Homo sapiens: one gene and its partners. The gene in region 1 interacts genetically with each later gene. Each region holds a gene or a part of one and is shown on either strand. Other genes may lie near its edges.

Region 1 (5,284 bases):
AATTCTGTATTTTTAGTAGAGACAGGGTTTCTCCATGTCAGTCAGGCTGGTCTCGAACTCCTGACCTCAGGCGATCCACCCACCTCCCAAAGTGCTGGGATTATAGGCGTGAGCCACCACACCCAGCCAGCAAATTTTTCTTTTTTTTTTTTTTTTTTTCTTTGAGACAGAGTCTCGCTCTGTTATCCAGGCTGGAGTGCAGTGGCATGATCTTGGCTTACCGCAACTTCCGCCTCCCAGGTTCAAGCAATTCTCTGCCTCAGCCTCCCAAGTAGCTGGGATTACAGAAGCCCGCCACCACGCCCAGCTAATTTTTGTATTTTTAGTAGAGATGGGGTTTCACCATCTTGGCCAGGCTGGTCTTGAACTCCTGACCTCGTGATTTACCCGCCTCAGCCTCCCAAAGTGCTAGGATTACAGGGGTGACCCCCGCACCCGGCCGCAAATTTTTCTTATAAGGCCATATAGTAATCCGTTAGGCTTTGTAGGTCTTGTTTCCTGTTCACCTACTCTGCAATATTAACTAGAAATCTGCCACAGACATGTAAATGAACAGCAGTGTTCCAATAAAATTTATTTACAAAAATAGGCTGCCAGACCCAGCTGTAGAAAAATCTCAAAAAATTACATATTAATGGTTCTGGGATGCATACTGGCTTAACTATCACGTAACAATTAAGTTGGCTTTTTGTTTGTTTTGAGATGGCATCTTGCTCTGTCTACCAGGCTGGAGTGGAGTGGCACAATCTCGGCTCACTGCAGCCTCCGCCTCCCAGGTTCAAGCAATTCTCCCGCCTCAGCCTCCTGAGTAGCTGGGATTATAGGCACCTGCCACCACACCTGGCTAATTTTTATATTTTTATTTATTTAGTTAGTTTGTTTGTTTTGAGACAGAATCTCACTCTATCACCCAGGCTAAAGAACAGTGGCGCAATCTTGGCTCACCGCAACCTCCGATTCCCAGGTTCAAGTGATTCTCCTGCCTCAGCCTCTCAAGTAGCTAGAATGACAGACGGATACCACCATGCTCGGTTAATTTTCGTATTTTTATAGAGATGACATCTCAACATGTTGGCCAGGCTGGTCTCGAACTCCTGACCTCAAGTAATCTGCCCGCCTTGGCCTCCCAAAGTGCTGGATTACAGGCATGCACTGCCACGCCCAGCCTAACATTTAAGTTGTGAAATCTGCTCAGGCAGACACAGTGGCTCACACCTGCAGTACCAGCTACTCAGGAGGTCTAGGTGGAAGGATAACCTGAACCTCGGAGGTCAACACTTCAGTGAGCCGTCATCACACCACTGCACTCCAGCCTGGGTAACAGAGTGAGACTCTTGTCTCAAAATAAAAAAATAAAAGAATAAAAAGATAAAAATGTCACATCTATGAAGAATTGGCACACAGGATAGGTAAGAAAAATATCTGTATTTTATTATGGCTTTCTCCTGCCTTAAAGTACCATAATTCCAGGCCTGAAGTTACCTACTTTACTTCCCATTACTCTCATAGTAATATCATTAAAAAAAAAAAAAAAAAAAAAAAAACAAAGCTGGCTGTGTGCAGTGGCTCACGCCTGTAATCCCAGAACTTTGGGAGGCCAAGGCAGGCAGATCACCTGAGGTCAGGAGTTCGAGACCAGCCTGGCCAACATGGTGAAACCCCGTCTCTACTAAAAATACAAAAATGAGTCAGGTGTGGTAGCACATGCCTGTAATCCTAGCTACTCAGGAGGGTGAGGCAGGAGAATCACTTGAACCCGGGAGGCAGAGGTTGCAGTGAGCCAAGATTGTACCACTGTACAATCTGGGCATCAGAGCAAGACTCCATCTCAAAAAAAAAAAACAAAGCTTAGATTACTTTGAATCCGAAAGCAGAGAAGGGTGAAATCAAAGCAATAACTAAATTGCTCCTTTATTTGAAATTCATGCTAATTCTGAAAACAACATTTTTTTTTTTTTTTGAGACAGAGTCTCACTCTGTTGCCCAGGCTGGAGTACAGTGGCATGATCTCGGCTCACTGCAAGCTCCACCTCCCGGGATCATGCCATTCTCCTGCCTCAGCCTCCCTAGTAGCTGGGACTACAGGCGCCCGCCACCATGCCGGGCTAATTTTTTGTATTTTTAATAGAGACGGGGTTTCACTGTGTTAGCCAGGATGGTCTCAATCTCCTGACCTCGTGATCCACCCGCCTTCACCTCCCAAAGTGCTGGGATTACAGGCGTGAGCCACCAGGCCCGGCCTTTTTTTTTTTTTTTTTTTTTTTTTTTTTTTTTTTTTTTTACAACAAAAACAAAAACACGGAGTCTTGCTCTGTCGTCAGGCTGGAGTGCAATGGCGCAATCTTGGCTCACTGCAACCTCCACCTCCCAGGTTCAAGTTATTCTTCTGCATCAGCCTCCCGAGTAGCTGGTACTACATGTGCCCGCCATCGCGCCTGACTAATTTTTGTATTTTTAGTAGAGATGGGGGTTCACCATGTTAGCCAGAATGGTCTCAATCTTCTGACCTCGTGATCCGCCTGCCTCGGCCTCCCAAAGTGTGGGGATTACAGGCGTGAGCCACCGCGCCCTACTCAACAACATTCTTTATACATCTCTAAATGGGACTCAGATGAAAAAGGGCCAAGGCTACCTTTGAACAACTTTGGCAATGAAGTCATCTGTGCAGATCAGTGCATCCGACAGCCCTTTGTAGAGTTTACAGCTCACATGTGTTGAGTCCTGCACATCCATTACCACTGAAAGACAAAATACATAGGAAATTGTTTTAGATTTAGCTTCTGACTTTTCCAAAAAAGACATAGGGACCAAACCGCTCCATGAGAGGTGTTAGCCACCCACACAACTCACCACACACCAGGGAGTCATTCACAGGGTGCTGAAAAGATACGCTGAAACGAGACTCTGAGAGAGGACACACTTCAAATTGGAGAAGCCCAGGAGAATCTAAAAGGCAAAGAGAAAGATCATAAAACAACCAAATATAAGACTTCACACAGGCTGGGCACGGTGGCTCACGCCTGTAATCCCAGCAGTTTGGGAGGCCAAGGCAGGTGGATTACCTGAGGTCAGGAGTTCAAGACCAGCCTGGCCAACATGGCGAAACCCCAACTCCACTAAAAAATAAAAAAAAGAGGCCGGATGCAGTGGCTCAGGCCTGTAATCCCAGAACTTTGAGAGGCTGAGGTGGGCTCATCACCTGAGGTCAGGAGTTCGAGACAAGCCTGACCAACATGGACAAACCCCATCTCTACTAAAAATACAAAATACAAAATTAGTCGGGCGTGGTGGCACATGCCTGTAATCCCAGCTACTCGGGAGGCTGAGGCAGGAGAATCACTTGAACCTAGGAGGCGGAGGTTGTAGTGAGCTGAGATCGTGCCACTGCACTCCAGCCTGGGCAAGAGTAAGACTCCATCTCAAAAAAAAAAAAAAAAAAAAAAAAAATTAGCCGGGTGTGGTGGCGCACACCTGTAATCCTAGCTACTCAGAGGGCTGAGACAGGAGAATCGTTTCAACCTGGGAGGCAAGGGTTGCAGTGAGCCGAGATCATGTCACTGAACCCCAGCCTGGGAAACAGAGCAACACTCTGTCTCAAAAAAAAAAAAAAAAGACTTCACACAAATAACATTCCTTAAATGTACAGACTGAAATTCTCTCTCCCTCCTTGGAAACTAAATCGCACACTTTTTTCACATACAAAACCTACTATATGTCATCCACAGATGACAGAAGGAATCAGATTCCAAGGAACCTGCCAGTTTGTTATAAATTTCTCCAGAACAAAAGTAGCTAGACTTTCAATTTTCCAAGATGAAGAAACTTAATCCCTAAAATGTAAAAGTGAATTCTGAAAATAAAAGTGGCCGAGTGTCTCATTCTACTTGATAAGCAGATATCCAGAACCACTGCCATAAACTCTGCTTTCTATCAAGTGTTTGCAGCTGTTAGATGTGCAGCCCATAGTTTGGCAAGCAGAGATATAGAGGCTATAATCTAAAATAATGTATTTATTCCACATATATCTAGCCATCATCATATGTTCTTATGCCAGATGTGCTAGCAGCCTAGACACAAGGATCATATACTTTCTTTGTAAAAAGCATGCCTCTCTATAGGATTAGCTCCATAACTGCCTTATGAAAACTCATTTTTAAATGCCCTAAAGCTATCTGGAGACTTCTTAAGGCATTTTAACACATGAAACAGAAGTGCCACAACTTTGAACATATATGCTCTATGTTATTACTCCAACTACTAAAAATTTCTCATTTCTAAAGCAATTTTTATTTCCATGAGAAGAATCTCCTGGCCCAGCACAGTGGCTCATGCCTGTAATCCCAACACTTTGGGACACTGAGGTGGGAGGAATGCCTGAGGCCAGGAGCTCAAGACTATCCTATACAACATGGCAAGACACCATCTCTACAAAAAAAATGTTGCTGTATAAATATGTACACTGAAATAAAAAGTATAATATAAATTTCTTTAAAATTTGACTAGATGTAGAGGTGCATGCCTATAGTCCAGCGACTTGAGGAGCCTGAGGGAAGAGTATCACTTGAGCCCAGGAGTTTGAGGCCAAAGTGAACTATGACTGTACCACTGCTTTCCAATCTCGATAACAGAGCAAGACCCTGTATCAAGAAAAAAAAGTCCAGGCATGGTGGCTCACGCATGTAATCCCAGCACTTTGGGAGGCCGAGGCAGGCAGACCACTGAGGTCACGAGTTCAAAACCAGCCTGGCCAACTCGACGAAACCCCGTCTCTGGTAAAACTACAAAGATTAGCCTGGCATGGTGGTGGATACTTGTAATCCGAGCTACTTGGGAGGCTGAAGCAAGAGAATTGCTTGAACCCAGGAGGCAAAGGTTGCAGTGAGTGAAGATCACACCACTGCACTCCAGCCTGGGTGACCAAGCAAGACTCCGTCTCAAAAAAAAAAACAAAAAGGCCAGGCGTGGTGGCTCATGCCTGTAATCCCAGCACTCTGGGAGGCTCAGGCGGGCAGATCACGAGGTCAGGAGATCGAGACCATCCTGGCCAACACGGTGACACCCCGTTTCTACTAAAAATACAAAAAAATTAGCCGGGCGTGATGGCGGGTGCCTGTAGTCCCAGCTACTCGGGAGGCTGAGGCAGGAGAATGACGTGAACTCAGGAGGCAGAGCTTGCAGTGAGCCGAAATTGCGCCACTGCACTCCAGCCTGGGCGACAGAGCGAGACTCCGTCTCAAAAAACAAACAAAAAATAAATAAATAAAAATAAAAGAGATCTGATTTG
Region 2 (3,500 bases), on another chromosome or scaffold:
ATATTTTTAAAAAAGTTTTTCAAACTTCTCAAGAAAAAAAGAAAAAATATCCCCACCCCATTTATTATTCTATATACCCAGCAAAGAAAAAAGATTACTTCTAACTTTAAACAACCTTAACAAAGAATTAGAAATAGTCAATAAAAGTATGAAAAAAATTCAAATTCACTCGTAATCAAAGAACTATACTTTAAAACAGTTCTACTCCCTAGCTGCTTGGCAAGCATTCAATAGTACTAATTGGTCTGGTGCTGGCACGGGTGTATGCTGCTTTGGGGAGCAGAAATCGCTGTTGTAGGGAAATAGGGAAATTATATTTGAAAGATTTTTTCCTCCAAGTTCCCTCTTCATTAAGCCACTAGATATGTGTTCACTATAACCGAGTATCTGACATAGCATGTATGCAAATTAATAAAAGAAAATCATGCATCAAAAGCCTTTGAAAAGTTCACAATTCTTTGATGCAGCAATTGCATCTCTAAGAACTTATTTTAAGGAGGTAACTAGATACATAAGCGTATTTATCACCTCCATGGTTATTAAACATCCTAACCAAAAACTACTTAATTACTCGGCCATAAAGAAGCGTTTAAATCAATCAGCCACGTGTTGACTAGCGTGTGGCCCCTGAGCATCACGATACCCATCAATACACGGAAAGTCAGCCACAATATATTATACGTGAAAAGAACAGGTGACAGTATCCTATACATAACAGAATTCCATTTTACATTTTAGATATGTTTATATCTATACACATCCACAATTCCTCCCAAAATGTTAATATTGGTTATTTCCGAGGTAGCATAATCAGGCAAATTTAACTAATTTTCTTCTTATTTACTTGTACTAACTTTTCTAAAATCAACACAAATCATTTGTGAAAAAAATAAAGAGAAAGTGGGAAAATACTAATTTCTAATAGGTTGTTTAGCCATACAAAGTTACATATAATACATTTATACTGCTGATTACTTAAAAAAACAGACTTATTGTTCATATTTATGGTTTTGAGATAGAAAGGAATTTTAAAACTTACCAAGTTTAATTCTCTCTTTTTACAGCTGAGGAAACGGAGGCCCAGAGAGGTAAAGAGACTTTCTTAAGATCAAATAGTAAGTTAGAAATGCCAGACCATGACATTTCCAATCAGTTCTTGTAACTTCTATACATATGTTTATATAAACAAAGGGAAGGAAAAGAATGAACAAAAACTAACAAAACCAATATGCCCCACTGGCATCCAAAGAGAGCTTAAATCTAATTTTAACTAATTCCTCAAATTTCAAGCTTAGCTATTTCTAAAGAATGAGACTAGGTAACACTTGGAAGTCTACGAGCTGGTCCCGCCTTCTCGCCTCACAGCCTGCCACGCTCCAGCTCAGGCTGTTCATCTTGGACAAGAGCACAGAGGCGCGTTAAAGTAAGAGCAGGGCCTACTGACTCCTCCAGTGCACATCTGGGCAGCTGGCAGGGCGTGAACTCGGCTCTGCGGCTAGACTTCAAACCTACTCTTAATTTTTGTCATAGAAAGTCACTACTCCCCAACAAAGGTTTGGTGCAATTAAAAAGGGGAAGGTACAAATTAAAGCAATGACAACTAAAACAGCTACTAGTATTAAGGTTGTATTTCCTGACTCCTTATAAGAAAATCTACAAAAATAAGAAAATCAAAGGAAATGAAATGGGAAGAGGAGGAAATGAGAGTCTCTCTGGGGGACACAGGTATGCAGATGAATGTTAAGAGACTGGAAAGATCTAAGCAATATCCTTTCCTACAAAAATTCGAAATAGCTCACAAACACATTAGAATTAGCTCTGTCACCAGACAGCCTTTGGCTGAACTTACAATAGAAGCCTCCCAAATTCCAATGGTCAAAAATTTAGAAGTTTGTTTTTTAAATTAGATTTTCCCACTTCAAGTAGAAGCAGAATGTATATTTATGATGCTTCCCTGAGATATTAGCAAATATTTCTGATCCATTTAAAAAAGGAAGGATAAGCTACACTGGGCTTTTACTAAAGCTAAACCTGCCTTGGGGTCCGGCAGTGGAGGCCACTTCTTTGGCATGCCTCAATGCTGGAAGCCCTCATGAAGGCGTGGGAAGGGTACCTAACTGAAAGGCCTGGTTCCTTCTCTTCACCTGAATGACCACACAGCCCACAGTGGGGGCAGACAAGTTCAAGAGGCCTACCTGCAAACTGCAGTTCACTCGTGCTCCCACAGAACACAGCACACTGGGTCCCACACCCCTGACCTCCTGCTGTCCCTTTAGACCACTATGCCGTCAGAACTCTGAAACTACAGAGACTCCTAGTTAGACCACTTTTTTCAACATCGTTTTGAACAGCACTAACCTCAGAATCCATTCCTTGCATTTCATTCTTCTCAAGCTGAAACTGCACAAAGTCATCAATGACATGGAAGAGCTCAGGAGAGACAGCTTTGAAGTACTTGTGGTAGTCGTACTTTACAGCCAGCGATGCAAAGATGGTGTTGTTGACCAGGGCAGACCGCAGGTCTGTCAGGACCCCCGGGGAGTGCTGCCGCGGGTCTTCATAAAGGTGCTTGGTTATGAGGTAGTCCAAAATCGCATCTCCCAGGAATTCTAAGCGCTGGTAACAATCTGAGGGGATCCGAAGTGGAACCGTAAGCTTGTGCAGAAGCATTTACACTATCCCCACATAGCAACTGATCCCCAAATCCGAAGAAGATTTGTATTTACAATCATTTTCATACATATATTCTTCAAAAAGGATATCTGACATATCATACTAAAAAGCCTCTGGAAACTAAATTTTAATGACAAATTAAGTACATTTCTTATATAAACTGGGGTCATAAAATCTTCAAGTGGTCAAAAGACTAACGCTTGTTAAGAAGGAAAAACAAAACCTCACAGGTGCTATCATGATCACTGAATGCTTTTCTCTGGCACTGTGCTGTCTGGGCAGGTGCTGGGGCCTTCCTCTCGAGTCTCCCTCACACATCATCACTTAAGTGAAACCAGGGCCGCACACACCTCTCCATGTGGCTACACTGTGCTGCCATCGCTAAAGTCTCATTCACACTCTGGAATCTGTGCATAAGTGATACCATTCCTCACTATTCCTGGGCTATTTTTGTTACACAGGATGACAGGAAAAGAAGACCCTCTTCTTAACTTGAGCTATTATAGAAATGAATTTACCACAAACCAAGAGATTGAGAAAGAAGAGTTGTGAAAGGGAGCAAAGGCAGGTAAACTGGTTGTCAAAATGTGAAAATGATCAATGTTAAATCAACACCTCTATTTTCTCACAGTGATTAAAATAATATATCCAGCTGAGGAAACTGAGGCAGGGACCGATGGTGACTTGTCCCAGAATAAGCAAGGAATTAAGAAGCAGGGACTGCTAGGCGAGAACCCAGGTCTCGGAACTTCCAGCAGAATGTAGTCGAAAGCCACGTATCATTTTTCCTCCATAACGAAAATTAGGCTTTAGTTTCATCAGTCTTT
Region 3 (3,500 bases), on another chromosome or scaffold:
AGATGCTAGTTCCCTTATATTTCAAAAGGACATTTTAAATTTTAATTCATGGTTTTAAATTATGAAAACAATGAAATAGAAATTAAAATAGCTTAAACATTACAAGACCTTAGCATATGGACCACTTAAAAGATCTTTGTACTTTGTAACTAGTATCGCAAGAATTGTTACGTTGGTCTGTTGCACTCCTGTTTAAGTGTGCCAATATTTAAAGCATGTGCAAGGTTATTTACTAACCATGAACAATCCATTCCATTGTTTATTAATCTTTATTTTTAGATATTTTTTACATATAAATGTATTCTTTGCTACAGTTGAAACCCAATAAATCCATTAAATAATATCTCTATATTTTATTTTAATTGACAAGTAGCAATTGTCTGTGTGTGTGTATATATATTATATATACTTATTTTTTTATAATGATAACACTTAAAATCTACTCTCTTAGCAATTTTGAAGTATACACTATATCGTTATTAACCATAGTCACCATAATGTCCAGTAGGTCTCTTGAACTTATTCCTCTTGTCAAAGTGAAATTTTGTCCTTTGACCAACATCTCTCCAGAAAGTAACATCTCTACTTTTTAATGTCTTTTTTGTTGTCATTGTCATTGTAGTGTTTAAAACGCTCACATGGGCCAGATGCAGTGGCGCATGTCTGTAATCCCAGTGCTTTGGGAGGCCAAGGCGGGAGGCTCATTTAAGCCCATTGTTAGAGACCAGCCAGGACATCCTGGGGAGACCCTGTCTTTACAAAAAATTAAAAAGTTAGCCGGGCCTGCTGGCATACACCTATAGTCCCAGCTACTCTGGAGGCTGAGGTGGGAACACCACTGGAGCCCCAGAGGTTGAAGATGTAGTGAGCCATGATTACGCCACTGCACTCCAAGCCTGGGCAACAGAGCAAGACCCTGTCTCAAAAAAAAAAAAAAATAATGATAATAAATAAAATAAAGGGCTTATATGTGGGACTAGTCAAGAATGATGTGGCCTTTTTGTTTTTCTTAGGTTATAGCATATATCTTGGAAAGAAATGCCTGCTTATTACCAGCCTATTTTGCAGTCACTGAGATCAGGAAACTGTATCCTGAAGGCAAACTTCCACACTGGGTAAATTTTATATTTCCTGAATTTTTAATAAAAATTTTCGGCTGGGCTTCGTGGCTCACAGCACTTTGGGAGGCAAAGGTGGGAAGATGATTTGAGGACAAGAGTTCAAGACCCAACCTGGGTAACATAACAAGACTCTGTCTCTGCAAAACATTAAAAAACACACGCACACATATTAGCCAGGCATAGTAGCACATGCCTATAGCCCCAGCTACTCAGGAGCTGAGGTGGGAGGATTACTTGAAACCAGGAGTTTGAGGCTGCAGTGAGCTGTGATCACACCACTGTACTCTAGCTTCGGCAAAAGGACGAGACCCTGTCTCACACACAAAAAAGGGTATTTTATAAAAAACAGTTATATTAATCTTATTTTTGTGTGCTTATTTTTTTAATGATGACTTTTATCCTTAGATAATATGTATATTTTTAATCATGATGTATTTCTTTCATTTCCATTTCCATTGAGAATTTATATGCCATGTAATAAAATATGATCAGCTTCATCAAATAGCTAAGGATATGGTGGTGTGACTTGGTTTAATTAAGGGACAGATGAACTGGCGAGTGATTTTTTAGAAGGAAGCAAAAGGGAGCTAACCTTTAAACAGTTATCATGTGCAATCTTTACATATATTATCTCATTTTATATAAATGTTCATATATTTCAGGGGCAGTCTCAATTTTCCTTTTGTACGTATTTATTTGACTTCCCTCTTTCTTTCTCTCTTTAGTTACTTGGAAACCTAGTATCAGACTTTGTGGATACCTTCAGGCCCACAGCAAGGATAAACTCCATTTGTGGTAGGATTATAATTTTAAATATGCCAAATAGTACCTGATTTTTAGTAATCTAATTATTGAACAAAGCTGAGGGATGTTCTCTTAATATGTGCCTTGGTGGCTTGTCATTTTGGTGACTCTCTAAGAGCTTAATATAATGCCTTTCCCTTGTTTTCACTTACTCTGTGTGCCAAGTACAGGGAGGAAAAAGAAACTCTCTGGAATGGGTTTAAGCTTCATTTAAAACCATTCTAGAAGTGGGTTTCTTGGTGATTAGAAAGACATTTTAATACAGCTAGTAAAGCACCATGGAATTTCTAGGCAGCTGGAAGTCTGAACAGACCTGTCCCTCTGTGGCTACAGAACGTGAAAGTGTCAGGCTCACTCAGCCCATTCTAATTCCCACTTTTGCTTTTCCTTTCGCATTTTCCCATGTTTTGTTAGAGTCTCTGAACTTTCTTTTAAAAATAACCATGTGATTTGGCAATTTTTGCAGTGCCCACATATCCTCTTTAATTATTTCTAGAAATCATGGTGACCTCAACTGTGTGGAAATATAGACCATTGTTTATTCAGTGATCAAATATTGAGTACTTCCTATAAGCCAGGTGCTATTCTAGATACTGAAAATACAAATACAATCTAAATAGACACTAGACAGATAATTATCAGGTTTCTAGCTTTTGTAACTGAGTGGATATTGATATCATGTAGTGAATTATGGAAGCAAAGTAGGTTGGAGAAGGATGATGAATTTGAGACATGTTAAGCTTGAGGTGCTTGTAGGACATCCAAGTGACGATATTTGTTAGGCAGTTGGATGTATGAGCTGATAGTCATATGTGACATCTAAGGCCTCTAGGAATATCGTGCATAAAGTTTAATCATGTTGACACTGGACTAGTGGTCTTAAACTTTTTCCTGTAAAGGGCCATGTAGTAAATATTTTAAGCTTCGTAGGCTACAGAATCTGTTGCAGCTACTCAGCTCTGCCATTGGACTGCAAAAGCAGTGGTGTTCCAATAAAACTTTACAAAAACAGGTGCCAGGCTGGATTTGGCCCATGGATTATAGTTGGCTGATCTCTGCCCTAGACATTTAGACAAAATGCGATATTTTCAACTTTGGAAAGCCTGTGCAAATTGATCTTCAACTATCTGAACTAAAAATAAAATTCCCAACCTTCAGTCTCATTGAAACATTTTTATAAGCCATTTTTAAACCAAACCAATGCCTATTTCAGCATATATGTTCATTAAATATTTGTGAAGTGAATGAAGTACTGCTGTGTTCACATTTACTTAAAAACATTTTTGTAATACATACAGGTCGCTGTAGTCTTCTGCCAGTTGTAAATAATTCGGGTGCCATTTGTAATTCATGGAAACTGGATCCTGCTACTCTTCGTTTTCCTTTGAAAGGCCTTTTGCCATATGATAAGGTATGTTGCTAAATATAATGGCACTTTTAGTCCATCTGACAGTCTTCAACCTAGATTATAAGATATGTGATGCTAAATTGTTGCTTCATAATCTGAAGAAGTAAATATTTAATGAAAGATAGTTTATAGTTTATCATGTTATTCTAGTATCTAAATATACCCTG
Region 4 (3,500 bases), on another chromosome or scaffold:
ATGAGAAACTTGAAACTTTTGATTCAGGTTTTGAAGAATTTCAACAAGGACATGCTTGAATCAGTATCAGGAAGTTGTAAAATGTTCTAATATTATATTTCCTCTGTATTTATTAAATACTCTTCCAAAACGAACAACTTTTCCCCTCCTATTTACTCTCGTTTTTTATATTTTATTTTATTTAGTATTACTAAATACTTAATGGACTTAGTGGGCTTTTATTATTCACTGTTACCACTGATGAGAGTCTTATTCTTTATGGTGCTAAGTTTGTTGCAAATTTGTTAGCAGAGGCTCCGTCAAGACACTTTGTCCTTTTGACATATCTCATTAGTCTTATTTTCTGATAAAACAAAATGTCACAGGTTCACCTGTTATTTTCACTCTAATAAACGTAGAATTATCTATTTCTCCTAGGATCCCTGGTTCCTTTTAGTGGGGGATAGTATTTAAAAACCAAGATCTTAGTGCTAGGTGTATCCATTGCTGTATTCCCAGTCCCTTATAAATTTGTGAAATATAACTAATAATTACATAAACCAGGCAGACACATACTGAAAACTACCAAGTGTGAACAAATTATTTTATTCATATTCAAAGCAAAGGAAACATTCCACAGTGCTTTGAGAGAAAATTATATATTTACAAATTTAGTCATATTCTAATAGCGACTAAGATACAATTTCCAAAACCCTTCAGATGATGTTATTTTGATGTAGTGTATTGTGATTATGAGAGAAAACATTGAATATATAGAACAGAGAAAAATACTTAACAATTGTGAATATATTTTTCTTAAATTGTTTTCCTGAATCTAAGTATATGCTTGGGCATTTCTTATGTATTTTTTAAACTTTATACAGGTAGAGAAAGTAGAATAATAAACCCTTGTGTACTTATCACCCAGCTTCAACAATTAACAGTTAATGGCCATCTTGTTGTACTTCTACTCCTACCTCTTCCCTCAACCTTTGAAGAAAATCCCAGACAGCTGATAGCTTTTTTTGGAAACTTGTAGCCTTTTCTCACCTATTGCCTTGGCTTTCTTGACAGGAGGGAGCTCTGACAGCCTTTCGCAAGACATATGACAAAACTGTGGCCCTGGGTCACCGATTGGATATTGTATTCTATCTCCTTAGGATTGGCTTATTTTATATGGATAATGATCTCATCACACGAAACACAGAAAAGGCCAAAAGGTACTTTCTAAGGGTGGGATTATATTTTCTCTAAATTATGATGCTACAAATGAGAAGCTGATATAAGAAACTGCCTGTTTTGTTTACAGCTAGTAAGTTTGGTCAAATAATTGATGTACTTATTTAGTAAAATAATTTAAATATCTCCTTTCGGTTCAAGTTGTTAAAAGTTGTTTTCTCATTTCAAATAACAGACAAGTTTTTAAAACGTGGCCTTGTCTGTTTCCAGACTATGATCTTACTGTTTTTATTTCATAGCTTAATAGAAGAAGGAGGAGACTGGGACAGGAGAAACCGCCTAAAAGTGTATCAGGGTCTTTATTGTGTGGCTATTCGTGATTTCAAACAGGCAGCTGAACTCTTCCTTGACACTGTTTCAACATTTACATCCTATGAACTCATGGATTATAAAACATTTGTGACTTATACTGTCTATGTCAGTATGATTGCCTTAGAAAGACCAGATCTCAGGGAAAAGGTAATGACCAAACTTTAATACTCAAATTTAAAGACTTGTTTTTTTTGTTTAAATACACAAATCATTAAAATGTACATTTTTTTTGTATATATGTTTTTTAAAATACCTAGGTCATTAAAGGAGCAGAGATTCTTGAAGTGTTGCACAGTCTTCCAGCAGTTCGGCAGTATCTGTTTTCACTCTATGAATGCCGTTACTCTGTTTTCTTCCAATCATTAGGTAAGGATAGGGTTGATATTTTTGATTATCTGTCTTCATCTTACTCCTGATCCTATGTGCAAATAACCTAAGACGATTTTTCACCTATCTGAGAAATGTAGTGTGTAGGTAGCTGCATGTCTTTGATCAGTATTCCTAATGTGCCCAGTTTTGTTTAGAAGAAGGGTCATCAGATTGTGGCCTGCTGTATGGCCCAGGAGGTAAGAATGATTTTTACATTTTTAAAGTGTTGTTTAAAAAAGGAGGATGTGACGGAGAGCTATGTAGCTTGCAAAGCCTAAAAATACTTACCCTCTGGCCCTTTGCTGAGGGTATTTGCCAGACCCCTGGTTAAGAGTCTTAATGGGGTATAAGGCAAAAGTGAGCAAATGGTTATTAAGTATTGAGCTTCATGGGGACAGAAGTGAGGGAATTCTGAATGTGATTTGGGGTGGAGATTAATTGAACCTTGAATTCAGCAATGGGCTATTCTGTATCAATAGCTAAATAGCTAAATCTCTGTGCTGATTTGCAAATCATTTTCAAGGGCTATGGGTTAAGAAAATAATCTCTTGAACGTAATTGTATTCCTTCAAAGCTAGTTTGTAGTGATCCTGCCTTCACACATTTGCTTGTTTCTCCCTCTTGTCCCCATTCTTTCCTGGCTATTTGGTTTCCTAATAATGACCACAAACTATTAAGATGATAGAAGAATCAGCTTGCATCAAGTTGACCCAGGGGTCTTTCCCAAAACTTAAAATTTGACATTGATATATTTTGTTTATGCTGCAAATTTCAGAAGGTGTTTGGTTAAATAGATAGCTTTGGAGAAAAGTGGGAATGGACGGTTCCAAATGACGATTGTTAATGTTTTTGCAGTGGGTTTTGGCCCAGTGTTTTTGGATGCTTTCTCCATGCATATAAATTGGGCTGCTTTATGAGAATTCATAGTATTTACCTCAGGTAATGTAGGAACAGGTTTCCCGAGCATGATGAGTAACTCACTTGGCCTTATCTTCTCATACATACACACACAGTTATGTTGCTTTTGCATATAAGGTTATATTGTAGAATTGCTCTTTTCCCTTTTTTATGCTTGAGGTCTCCTGGTCATCACTCAACTCAAATATGGAGCCCTTCCCTGCTTCCCTCAGTCAGAACAAATCTTACTTCTCTGCATTCCTGGGATTCTTATTGTATGCTCCCTCCTTCAAAAAAATTGAGGGAGCCCTTCCTTGCTTCCCTCAGTCAGAACAAATCTCTTACTTCTCTGCATTCCTGGGGTTATTGTATGCCCCCTCCTTTAAAAAAACTGAGGTATAAATCACACACCATAAAATTACCTCAAGTGTACAATTCAGTGCTTTTTCATATATTGGCAAGGTTTTGCAAATATTAATAATTCCAGAACATCTTGATCACCCCAAAAGGAAACCGACACCCATTAGCAGTCACTCCCTATTACTCCTTTCCCCCAGCCCCTGGCAACCACTGATCTACTTTATGTCTGTACGAATTTGCCTATTCTGGACATATCATCTAAATGCAGTCATAAAATACGTGGCTTTTTGTGCCTGGCTTCTTTCACTTTATAATGTTCCCACATTCATCCATGTTGTAGCATG

The links.
Region 2: changes in MED1 (region 1) and DICER1 together harm fitness more than expected from each alone (negative genetic interaction), as found in Homo sapiens cells (one large-scale study listed by BioGRID).
Region 3: changes in MED1 (region 1) and MED23 together harm fitness more than expected from each alone (negative genetic interaction), as found in Homo sapiens cells (one large-scale study listed by BioGRID).
Region 4: changes in MED1 (region 1) and PSMD6 together harm fitness less than expected from each alone (positive genetic interaction), as found in Homo sapiens cells (one large-scale study listed by BioGRID).

Annotation. Positions count from the first base shown.
Region 1 is NC_000017.11:39,412,394-39,417,677, forward strand, and holds part of MED1 (mediator of RNA polymerase II transcription subunit 1), read right to left. Parts: intron 2,947-5,284; coding exon 2,851-2,946; intron 2,739-2,850; coding exon 2,633-2,738; intron 1-2,632. UniProt on the Homo sapiens protein: Component of the Mediator complex, a coactivator involved in the regulated transcription of nearly all RNA polymerase II-dependent genes.
Region 2 is NC_000014.9:95,091,530-95,095,029, forward strand, and holds part of DICER1 (endoribonuclease Dicer), read right to left. Parts: intron 2,628-3,500; coding exon 2,359-2,627; intron 1,166-2,358; exon of another isoform or gene 1,040-1,165; intron 1-1,039. UniProt on the Homo sapiens protein: Double-stranded RNA (dsRNA) endoribonuclease playing a central role in short dsRNA-mediated post-transcriptional gene silencing.
Region 3 is NC_000006.12:131,618,243-131,621,742, reverse strand, and holds part of MED23 (mediator of RNA polymerase II transcription subunit 23), read left to right. Parts: intron 1-1,013; coding exon 1,014-1,115; intron 1,116-1,846; coding exon 1,847-1,916; intron 1,917-3,223; coding exon 3,224-3,336; intron 3,337-3,500. UniProt on the Homo sapiens protein: Required for transcriptional activation subsequent to the assembly of the pre-initiation complex. Component of the Mediator complex, a coactivator involved in the regulated transcription of nearly all RNA polymerase II-dependent genes.
Region 4 is NC_000003.12:64,016,995-64,020,494, reverse strand, and holds part of PSMD6 (26S proteasome non-ATPase regulatory subunit 6), read left to right. Parts: intron 1-1,053; coding exon 1,054-1,199; intron 1,200-1,457; coding exon 1,458-1,677; intron 1,678-1,787; coding exon 1,788-1,896; intron 1,897-3,500. UniProt on the Homo sapiens protein: Component of the 26S proteasome, a multiprotein complex involved in the ATP-dependent degradation of ubiquitinated proteins.